Homo sapiens: one gene and its partner. The protein of the gene in region 1 interacts with the protein of each later gene in a pairwise test. Each region holds a gene or a part of one and is shown in the gene's direction. Other genes may lie near its edges.

What was found.
Region 2: the proteins of DMAC2L (region 1) and EVX2 interact in binary tests that used the Homo sapiens proteins (3 or more experiments, as listed by UniProt).

What each region holds. Positions count from the first base shown.
Region 1 is NC_000014.9:50,307,699-50,315,354, forward strand, and holds the start of DMAC2L (ATP synthase subunit s, mitochondrial isoform a precursor), read left to right. Parts: upstream 1-4,625; 5' UTR 4,626-4,691; exon of another isoform or gene 4,692-6,565; coding exon of another isoform or gene 6,566-6,692; intron 6,693-6,760; exon of another isoform or gene 6,761-6,892; 5' UTR 6,893-6,928; intron 6,929-7,656. Other genes in the region: L2HGDH (L-2-hydroxyglutarate dehydrogenase, mitochondrial), read right to left, coding at 4,313-4,452. UniProt on the Homo sapiens protein: Involved in regulation of mitochondrial membrane ATP synthase. Necessary for H(+) conduction of ATP synthase. Facilitates energy-driven catalysis of ATP synthesis by blocking a proton leak through an alternative proton exit pathway.
Region 2 is NC_000002.12:176,076,955-176,080,980, reverse strand, and holds the end of EVX2 (homeobox even-skipped homolog protein 2), read left to right. Parts: intron 1-142; coding exon 143-874; 3' UTR 875-3,509; downstream 3,510-4,026.

The sequences.
Region 1 (7,656 bases):
CATCCCCTCCTGTATTATATTATTTTGATGCAAATCTTAAACACCACATTATTTCATCTGTAAATATTTCAATGTTATTTCTAAAAGGCATCTCTAAAAACACACACTACCATTATAGTTAAAAAAACTAACACAAAATTTTTTACATCACCTAATATTCACTTTAAAACTTTTAGGAAAAAATAGGACAAAATCTTGGGACTTAGAGTTGACATCAAAAACATGATCCATAAAAGAAAAAAAACTGATAAAATGGACTTCATCAAAACATAAAACTTTTGCTCTGCAAAAAGACTCTGTTAAGAGGATAAAAAAACTAAGAAATTGGAAAAAAATACTAGTAACTGCATATCTCCCAAAGGACTCATACATAAAAGAACTCTCAAAACAAGCCATTTAGAACGTAGGCAGGCCGGGTGCGATGGCTCACGCCTTTAATCCCAGCACTTTGGGAGGCCAAGGCGGGCGGATCACCTGACGTCAGGAGTTTGAGACCAGCCATGCCAACATGGAGAAACCCCATCTCTACTAAAAAGACAAAATTGGCTGGGCATGGTGGCGCATGCCTGTAATCCCAGCTACTCGGGAGGCTGAGGCAGGAGAATTGCTTGAACCCAGGAGGCCTCTGCGGTGAGCCGAGACCGCGCCACTGCGCTCCAGCCTGGGCAACAAGGCGAAACTCCATCTCAGAAAAAAAAAAAAAAAAAAAGTGGGCAAAAGATATGAACAAATATTTCATCAAAGAGGACAGATACACAGATGGCAAAGAAGCACATGAAAAGATGTTCAACACCATTAGTCAATGCATTGTTCAAACATCATTGCATCAGAGAAATGTAAATAAAAACCACAATGAGATATCACTACGTCTCTATCAGAATGGCTAAAATTTAAAAAGTGATCACCCCAAATGCTGGTGAGAATGAAGGGAAACTGGATTACTCACACATAGCTGGTGGGAATGTAAAATAGTACAGCCACTCTGGAAAAGAGTATGGCAGTTTCTTAAAAAGAAACTAAACATGGACTTACTACATGACTCAGTAACTGCAGTCTTGGGCATTTATTCCAGAGAAATGAAACTTATGTTCATACAAAAACCTGAACATGAATGTTCATAGTAGCTTTATTCGTAATAGCCAAAAACTGGAAGCAGCTTGGATGTTCTTCAACCCATGGTAAACGGTTAAACAAATTGTGATGTATCCATACCATGGAATTCTATTCAACAATTTTGAAAAACCTGCTATCAATACAGGCGACGCCTTGCATGGATCTTAAGGATAGTATGCTGTGTGAAAAAAAGCCAATCTCCAAAGGCTTGTTTTGAGAGTTCTTTATGTATTTTGTGTATTAGTCCTTTGGGAGATATGCAGTTGCTGGTATTTTTTTCCCACGTCTTGGTAGTTTTTTCATTCTCTTAACAGTCTTTTGCAGAGCAAAAGTTTTTCATTTTGATGAAGTCCATTTTGTCAATTTTTTTCTTTTAGAGATCATGCTTTTGATGTCATCTCTATGTCCAAAGATCTTGTCCTTTTTCTAAAAGTTTTATACTGAATATTTGGTGATATAAAAAATTTCAGGCCGGGTGCAGTGGCTCATGCCTGTAATCCCAATACTTTGGGAGGCTGAGGCGGGTGGATCACCTGAGGTCAGGAGTTTGAGACCAGCCTGGCCAACACGGTGAAACCCTATCTCTACTCAAAATACAAAATCAGCTGGGCGTGGTGGCACATGCCTGTAATCCCAGCTACTCAGGAGGCTGAGGCAGGAGAATCCCTTCAACCTAGGAGACAGAGGTTGCAGTGAGCCAAGATCATGCCACTGTACTCCAGCCTGGGTGACAAAGCGAGACTTCGTGTTAAAAAAAAAAAAAAATTTAGATTCACAGTTGCCAAGAGTTAGGAAGAATGGAGAGGAAGGTGTGAATATAAAGAGATAGGTAACACAACAGATAACCTTGTGGCAATAGAATATTTTTATACCACCCTTTTTTTTTTTTTTAAGAGAGTCTTGCTCTGTTGTCCAGGCTTCAGCGCGGCGGTGTAATCACAGGTCACCACACCTTCAACCTCCTGGGCTCAAGCGATCCTCCTGCCTCAGCCCCACAAGTGGCTGGGACTACAGGAGCAAGCCACCACACCTGGCTAATTATTTTTTAATTTTTTTGTAGAGCAGGGGTTTTGCCGTCTCCCTTTGTTGCCCAGGCTGGTCTCCAACTCTGAGGCTCAACCTATCCTCCCACCTCGGCCTCCCAAAGTGCTGAGATTATAGGCATGAGCCAGCATGCCTGGCCACATTTTCATATCTTAATTGAGGTGGTAGTTACACAAATTAATACATATGATTAAACTGCATAGAACTAAACACACACACACACACGAATATATGTAAAACTGATGAAAGCTGAACAATGTCCGTGGATTTTGCCAATATCAATTTCCTAGTTTTGATATTGTACTATAGTTATATAAGATGTTTTCATTGGGGTAAATGGGGTGAAGGGTACATGGGATCTCTTTGTACTGTTTATTTATTTTTATTTTTTATTTTGTAGAGAAGGGATCTTATATTTTGCCCAGGCTGGTCTCAAACTTCTGGGCTCAAGTGATCCTCCTGCCTCAGCCTCCCAAAGCACTGGGATTACAGGCCTGAGTCACCACGCTTGGCCTGTACTATTTTTGCAATTTCCAATGGATCTATAATTACTTCAAAATAAAAGTATAGGCCAGGCACGGTGGCTCACACCTGTAATCTCAGCACTTTGGGTGGCTGAAGAGGGAGGTTCACTTGAGGCCAGGGGTTCGAGACCACCCTGGGCAACGTCTCTACAAAAAAATAGGAAAATAATTAGCTGCCTGTGGTCCCAGCTCCTGGAGGACAGGAAGCATTGGGGAGGGGGGCTGAGGAGGGAGGATCGCTTGAGCCCAGGAGGGTGGAGGCTGCAGTGAGCTATGATTGTGCCACTGCACTCCAGCCTTGGCAACACAGTGAGACCCTGACTCCAAAAATTTTTTAAAAAAACATTTTAAGTATAAACAAAACTTTCACTAGCCCTACTTTTCTTTCCTTAAGAAAAGCTTCCCAAAAGAACTGTCCACATGCCCCATAACAAATCACAATCGCTATTACTGGTATCCCACTCTACTCCCCCTATCCACCAACACGCAGCAGCCAGAGTCAACTTTTAGAACATCAACATTTAATTATTAGCCTCTTCTTTTTTTCTTTTCTTTTCTTTTTTTTTTTTTTTTTTTTTTTGCGAGACAGAGTCTTGCTCTGTCGCCCAGGCTGGAGTGCAATGGTGCGATCTCAGCTTACTGCAATCTCCGCCTCCCAGGTTCAAGCGATTCTCCTAAGGCTCCGGAGTAGTTGGGATTACAGGCGCCCACCACCACGCCAGGCTAATTTTTTTGTATTTTTAGTAGAGACGGGGTTTCACCATGTTGGTTAGGCTGGTCTCCAACTTCTGACCTCAGGCGATCCGCCCGCCTCGGCCTCCTAAAGCGTAGCCTCTTCTTAAAACCCTTTTAAATAGCTTCCCGTGGCTCTTAGAATAAAAGTCAACGTGTGGTTAAAATAAACTAAAAACCTTGCTGTGATGTAGTCCTTCTGGGTCATTCCACACCATATGTCTTCCACTAAACTTCAGTCACACTCATATGGCCCACCTTCTAGTCGTCAAAATAGCCAAAACCTCTCCAAGCCTTACAGCCTTCACACAAACTGTTTCTTCTACAGAGGACAGAGAAAGACAATGGTTTCGAATGTGACGTCCAAACTATAAATCACAGGACACTGAATTCTGCGGGCTTTCATTAGCATAAGAGCTGCCTCCGACGGGGGCAACACTATGCGGGGTGTGCCAGGAACTGATTTAAGACTGTATTCAGATCTTCCAAGCAACGCCAAAGACTCCAGCTTATAAAGAGCATATTTGATTGCTTATACTGTGTGCTAGGTCCTTTTATCCTTCAAATGACCACCTACAGGAGAGACTAAGGTCCAATTCACAACTGAGCCTTTAAGGAGGTTAAGTAACTAGCCCAGAGTTCAACAGAAAGTGGACGGGTTGTTCAAAGCCAGAGCTACTCCCGACCTCTACTCTATACACTGCCTTTCCTCCGGCCCGTAAATACAACGAATGAACCTGCAGGTTGGTAGCTCCTGGGATCCGAGGTTGGAGTGCCACAGGACCCCAACCTGCTCTCACCCCGGGACAGGGAAATACGAACAGGGGCACAGGTCCACCACCAGGTGCCTCCGCGAGGGGCAGCAGCGCAGGCGGCGGGGAGGACCAGCGGCCACTCACCTGGTGCTGGCGCTGCGGCTACCTCCACACAGCGGTCTTGGCCTCCCAGACGCGAACCCGCACGCCCCAGGGGAGCCACCGGCGAAAAGCCCGCGGGCCCGTCCGCAGGCACCAACCAAATAACGCAGCGCTGGCACCATCCCCTACGCACGCTCCCCTCCCTCAGCGCTCAGAAGAAGCCACTTGACCCTCCACGGCCGAGGACCCGCGCTCTTTAGCCCCGCCCCTCACGCGGGGGCCAATGAAGTGGCGCGCCTTCGCCCCATGTGGGAGAGGCTGCGGTGGCCAATAGGCGCGCGCGTCGGAGGGCGAAGGGCCGGCCAGGGTGCCGCAGACGCGGGGACGCTGGCTCGCTCCCTCCCTCCCTCCCTCCGACGCTGTGAGTAGAGAAGCTAGGCCCCGAGCCGGGCGGGACTAGGGTGGTGGTTGTGTTCTGCCCTCGCCCGTCGCCAACGCTGGGCTGACTGAAAACCTGGCCCTTTGGGTCGCGCGTCTTCGACCTTCACCGCCATGCGGACATGGGGCCGTGGGAGAAACTCTGGGCGGGATTACGGTGAAAATTCTTGTTTGGGCGGGCCCTGCGGCTTCTTTCTTCCGGCTCGCCCTCGGCCCCGCCCCCGCCCCGCCCCCGCTCCAGCTCCAGCCGGGTCCTCGCTCGGCCCCGCACGCGGCCCGCGGTAGACGGAGGGCCTGGGCACCCACCGTCTCCATCCCGGCCCCAGCCCAGTCGAGCGTCCACTAGAAGGGCGCTCCCTGTCCGGCCCTAATCCTCGCTCCTCACGGAGGCTCTTTGTCACAGCGAAGACTGACAGCCCGCAGTCTTCTGGACTTCTTTTATGGGGCTCCTGGCGGTGCTATTCATTCAGTCATTGATTCGTCTTGTAAATATGGAGCGCCTGCTCTGTACTCGACCCGGCACTGGGTACCGGAAGAACCAGACAGCTCGGTTTTTGCCACCATTTATAAGTCTGTGTCCTTTTCTTGAGTACTGAACCGAGATACAGTTTTAAATGTGCTGTGCGGTCTCTGAGCAGCGACTCACCTGTGCAGGTCACTTCACCTGATTCCCTTTATGTAAAAATGAGGGCGATGGGCTGTGTAATCTCTAAAGGACCTTCTAACTCTTTAAAATTGTCACTGTGCCGGTGTTGCTAACACTCATTCTGTATGCTTGATGGCAGTTTTTAATTTTTAGGGTTAGGACAGCTGAACATAACAAATAGAATTATACAGATTTATTACCAGAAGGACTTCGTGTGCCTCTAAGAATCTTGGTTCCAGTCTTTGGTCAGGTAGCTCCAGGAAATCACTTCACCTCTTTGCCTCAGACCCTCCTCAGTGAACTAGGAATGATAGCAGTGTCTCCCTAGTCTTAGGGCCGTTGAGCGGATTACACGAGATAAGGTCAGCAGGTGTTTAGCACAGTGAAGCATTTGCTACGTGATGACATTTATTATGGTTAAAGGGTTTTACCACCAGAACAGTGGTACATAGTTTGCTTTATTTGTTAAAACAATGTAGAATATTGCCTGCTTGTTCCATCACAGATGAAAAAAAGAGATGGTTATTCAACTTTGTGAGGTAATTGTGGATTTCCATGCAATTGTAAGAATAGAGATTCTGTGTACCCTTTACCCAGTCTTCCCAGTGGTAGCATCTTGCAAAACTAGTACCATATCACAACCAGGTAATTGACATTCACACAATCCATTGATCTCATTCAGATTCCTCATTTTGTATTAGTGTTCTCTGTGTATATTTAGTTCTATATGGTTATCAGGTGTGTAGATTCTTGTATCCACCACCACAGTCAAGGTACAGCCCAGGTCCATCACCACAAGGGTCCCTCCAGTTGCCCTTTTATAACCACAACTTACCTTTGCAGCCCCACCCAATCTATTCTCTGTTTCTAAAATTTTGTTATATCAAGAATGTTACATAAATGTAATTATTGTAATTATACAGTATGTAACTTTTATTGACTCTTTTTCATTCAGCATAATCCCTTGAGATATATCCAAACTGTTACATGTATCAGTAGTTCCTTCCTTTTTATTACTGAGTGGTATTCCATAATGTAGATGTACTACAGTATTGATATGGTTTGGCTGTGTCCCCACCCAAATCTCATCTTGAATTGTAACTCACCATTCCCATGTGTTGTGGGAGGAACCAGGTGGGAGGTGATTGAATTATGGAGGCAGGTCCTTCCTGTGCTGTTCTCCAGATAGTGAATGAGCCTCACAAGATGTGATGGTTTTAAAAACGGGAGGTTTCCCTGCACAAGTTCTTTCTTTGCATGCTGCCATCCATGTAAGATGTGACTTGCTCCTCCTTGCCTTCCACCATGATTGTGAGGCCTCCCCAGCCATGTGGAACTGTAAGTCCATTAAACCTCTTTTTCTTCTCGGTCTCGGGTATGTCTTTATCAGCAGTGTGAAAATGGACTAATACAAGTACATTCAACTGTTCACTCATTGAAGGACATTTGAGTTGTTTCTAGTTTTTAGCTATTGTGAATCAAGCAGCTGTGAACATGAGTGTACAGCCTTTTGTGTGAACCTGTTTTTGTTTCTCTAGGATAAGTGCCCAAGAGTACAATTGCTGGGTCATATGGTAAGTGCATGTTTATTTTTTATTTTTATTTTTGAGACAGGGTTATGCTCTGTTGCCCAGGCTGGAGTGCAGTGGTGCAATCTCAACTCACTGCGGCCTCTGCCTCCTGGTCTCAAGCAATTCTCCTGCCTCAGCCTCCTGAGTAGCTGGGACTATAGGCACATGCCACCACGCCCGGCAAACTCTCATATTTTTAGTAGAGATGCGGTTTCGCCATGTTGACCGGGCTGGTCTTGAACTCCTGACCTCAAGTGATCTGCCTGCCTCAGCCTCCCAAAGTGCTGGGATTACAGGTGTGAGCCACTGCACCCAGCCTATTGTATCATTCTTTTTTATTTATTTGCTTATTTATTTTTTTGAGACAGAGTCTCGCTCTGTCACCCAGGCTGGAGTGCAGTGGCATGATCTCAGCTCACTGCAAGCTCTGCCTCCCGGGTTCACACCATTCTCCTGCTTCAGCCTCCTGAGTAGCTGGGACTATAGGCACCTGCCACTATGCCCGGCTAATTTTTTATATTTTTAGTAGAGACAGGGTTTCACCGTGTTAGCCAGGATGGTCTCAATCTCCTGGCCTCGTGATCCACCCGCCTCGGCCTCCCAAAGTGTTGGGATTACAGGCATGAGCCACTGCGCCCAGCCTATTATGTCATTCTTATGCCTTTGCATCCTCATAGCTTAGCTCCCACTTTTGAGTAAGAACATACGATGTTTGGTTTTCCATTCCTGAG
Region 2 (4,026 bases), on another chromosome or scaffold:
CCACAGGGTACTCGGGGTTGGGCTTGGTCGGAGAGAAGTAGACCAAGCCATTCAGAGGTCCGGAAGGGGCAGAGGTCCTGGGACAGGAGCTGGGAACACGGGGCGCTCCCTAACCCAGGCTGCGGCGCGTCTCTCCCCGCAGGTGTGGTTCCAGAACCGGCGCATGAAGGACAAGCGGCAGCGCCTGGCCATGTCCTGGCCGCACCCAGCCGACCCCAGCTTCTACACCTACATGATGACGCACGCGGCCGCCACCGGAAGCCTGCCCTACCCCTTCCACTCGCACGTGCCGCTGCACTACTACCCGCACGTGGGCGTCACGGCGGCGGCGGCCGCGGCTGCAGCCTCAGGCGCGGCGGCCGCGGCTTCGTCGCCCTTCGCTACTTCCATCCGGCCACTGGACACCTTCCGCGCCCTCTCGCACCCCTACTCTCGGCCGGAGCTGCTGTGTAGCTTCCGCCACCCTGGTCTCTACCAGGCTCCCGCGGCCGCCGCGGGGCTCAACAGCGCGGCCTCTGCCGCGGCAGCCGCGGCAGCCGCAGCGGCTGCGGCCTCCTCGGCGGCGGCGGCCGGCGCGCCCCCCAGCGGCGGCTCTGCACCCTGCTCGTGCCTCAGTTGCCACAGCAGTCAGTCGGCGGCGGCAGCCGCGGCAGCAGCTGCCGCAGCCCTGGGTTCCCGGGGTGGCGGTGGCGGCGGCGGTGGTGGTGGTGGCGGCGGCGGCGGGGGCGCCGGGGCCGGGGGAGGCTCGGACTTCGGCTGCAGCGCGGCGGCGCCGCGTTCCGAGAGCGGCTTCCTGCCCTACTCGGCCGCGGTGCTTAGTAAGACGGCCGTGAGCCCGCCGGACCAGAGGGACGAGGCTCCGCTCACCAGATAACTACGTCGCCACCGCCAGGGGGCCGCGCCCGCCTCTCTGAGTGTGCCCGGGAGTCCCCTGTGCGCCCCCTGAGCCCTCCGCGCGTTGCCCGCTGCTGCCGCTGCCGCCAGGGGGCGCCCCGGGGCGCGGGAGGCCGAAGGGAACCTGCTCCGAATTGGGGGAGAAGGAGCAGGCGCAAAAGCCTGGCGGGCATCCCCCTAAATTATTTCTATTTTTGTATTTGCCACCCAGCCGTCTGCCCTTCTCTCTCTTTTCTGGCTCCCGGGACCCACTTTCCACCTCTGTCCTGAGCGCTTGGTTTCCCAAAGACCAACCCCTCGCCCCCTAAGCTAGTCCTGGCTGTGCACTCTCAGGTCCGGGTTGCTTGGCTGAACGGCGTGGCCCGAAGCAACGGAGAACCACAACAAAGACAGAGGGGGATGCTGTGCGCTGGTGCTTGGGGGCGGGGGAGGAGTCGCCCCGGAGGTTTCTCGCTGCTGCTGTTTTTCTTCCTTTTCTTTCAACGAGGGTGGGGGAGGTGGCAAACGTTCTTTCAGCCTGAGCTTATTAGGGACCCTGCCCGAAGAGTGCGGGAGAACGGAGGTCTGATAAGGCCGGGAGGACGGATGGAGAGCGTGGGCAGCGGTGGTTGTTTGTGAGATTGTTTACTACGTTCAGGAGCAAGGCGGGTAGGGATGTGGCCGCCTTCCCCGGGAAGGACAAAGCCGAGGTGCTGGAAGGGGTGGCCGTTGCGCCGCCTCCTTTTCGGTCCAACACCTTTCTCTCTTTTGGTCTTTGGTTTCAGTGCTGATGGAATGGAAGCATCTTGCATATTTTATGCAAAAAGTGATGGCAAAAGAGGTTGCCACGGCCAGGGAAGGGAAAGGAAGGGAGTTGGGGTAGGGGTAAGACTGATAGATCGCTGTAGTATTTGGAGAGGCGTTTTCAGCTCAGTTTTCCAACTACCGGGTTCCACTCGATCTGGGAAATACTTGAATCTCTAGATATATTAATATTATCCTAAAGCATTTCCTTAGACACTTTTCTAAGTTAGAACTCTCTATGTCCCTCGTCCCCTTCTCTCCTCGCTTTCCTTTTCCTCGGGTGAAATGGTTCTTGGCATATTTCTCACGCATGTCTATTGCGCCTTCGCCTCTGCAAAGCCACCGCTGGGTTGCTGAGACCCGCTCTGCCAACCCGGCTACTGGAGGGGTTTCCTTGAACTTGAAGAAAGGTACATCAAAACCCACTAGTGTTAACTGCCACGTCAAGTTTGATGCTAATAATGTGCAGATTATGACGAAAATTGCCAATCATGCTCTCTGATGGACCTCCTTTGAATGTGGAATTGGAGAAAAGTTCCCCGCACGGAGACCTGCTGTCAAGTACTAACAACCCGCTAAGGGAAGTCATTAGGAGAGACGGATAAGAGACTCGGTACATAAAACATTGTTCTTGGTGCATAGAATGTATGTTATTTAATGTTATCTCTGTTACCTGAAGTGATTTCGCAGAAGAAAGCCACGTTCTTATCATCTCAATTGCCGATTTTCATTTTGGTAACTTGGACGCCCTGGGTAGACTTTTCTCTGTTAAGTTGATATTCCACCAGTGTGAACAGCCTCATTAAATCAAGCCCAGATATTTCCATAATGCTCCCCGCAGAGCCACTTGGCTCCTCACATAATGAGATTTTCTGAAGAGTTGAAGCCCTAAAATAACTTGCTAGTGCATGTTTAGACCCAGCGAAGTGGGTATGTGTGTGTACGTGTATTAAAATGTAGGTAGGCTACCTACATGTGTTTGTGTATGTGTATATATATGTATATGTATGTATATGCATATATATATCCGTGCTCTTAAATACATATGTAAGAGATACACACATATTCATGTATACATACACATTGGCACTATTTTCTGTGGTTTATTTCAGATTTGTGTCCTGCCATCATATTGTTATTTTAAAGACACTGGATTTTAAAATATCATTTCCTAAATATAGGCTTTCAGTAAACTTTTGAAAGAATTAGTTTTCCAGGAGAAATTATTTCCATCAAATGGAAAATACATAAAGGGGAAACAGTATTTCGAAATTCCTGGGGTCTATTAAAATATTACCATAAAATATTAGAGAACTTTCCAATGAAATAGCAATGATCTAAAACTTAAGTTTTTGTTTTTGTTTTTAAAAACATGAGACTACTTATGTAAAATATTGATTATACCAGCTCTTATTCACTGAGTTTACATTTTTAAAAATATTAATATATAATTTAAGGCTAAATAAAATAAACCAAAATATGGTACCCTTTATCAGCTTTACCTATTTAGATTGTTAAAGTCCTTTGTTATGATCAGCTAACAGATGTATATAAGGTACTTTAGGCAGTAATGTTTACATTTCCCCCAAAAAATATATATGATTGATGAGAACGCTGGTTGGTAAAATTAACATAAATTCATCATTTGTTGGGTCCATTGGATCTGGTTATTATATTGAAATAAAATTGTAAATAAAGTCTTCGTGCTTTAAATATTGCTGGATGTATGAACTCACTGTAAGATATTTTACAAATGTGCAATAATTATAAAGCCTTGTATATTACGTTATTTATTGTGTTTGGTCATGTAAAATAAATGTTATTTAAATCAAGGCAGTTTTATTTGTTTAAGAGATTGCAAAATGGTTTGTGCTAGTGTTCGTTTTTAACTGTGGCATCCAGGGTTATGAGAATCTCTTAAAACAACATGTTTAAATCCATATAATACACATATCAGATGGATTAATTCATTCTAATCATTATTTTTATGGCAAATACATTACTCATGTTTATAGGAGACATGCACTCTTCCAAACATTGGTTTAACGTTAATTGGCTGGCTAAACAGATAAGAGTGTTTAGGAGTAGTGTGTGTGTCGATACACATGGTAGAGGACGTGCCGTCATATATATAGGGAGTGTGTACACAGGGTTAGGAGCTGTTTATGTTTGCAGTACTACAAAGGTAAACAAAATTAATTCCTCTATCTAATTAACTTGCCCACTTTTATTCTCCCACTTATGAAGTAAATATTAATATTTAATTCAAGGAAAAAGTTCACTCTTAATAGGAGCTCAGCCCTCTTCAAGCTCAGCCCTCCCTTACTAGTTCCATCTCCTTTGGTCTCT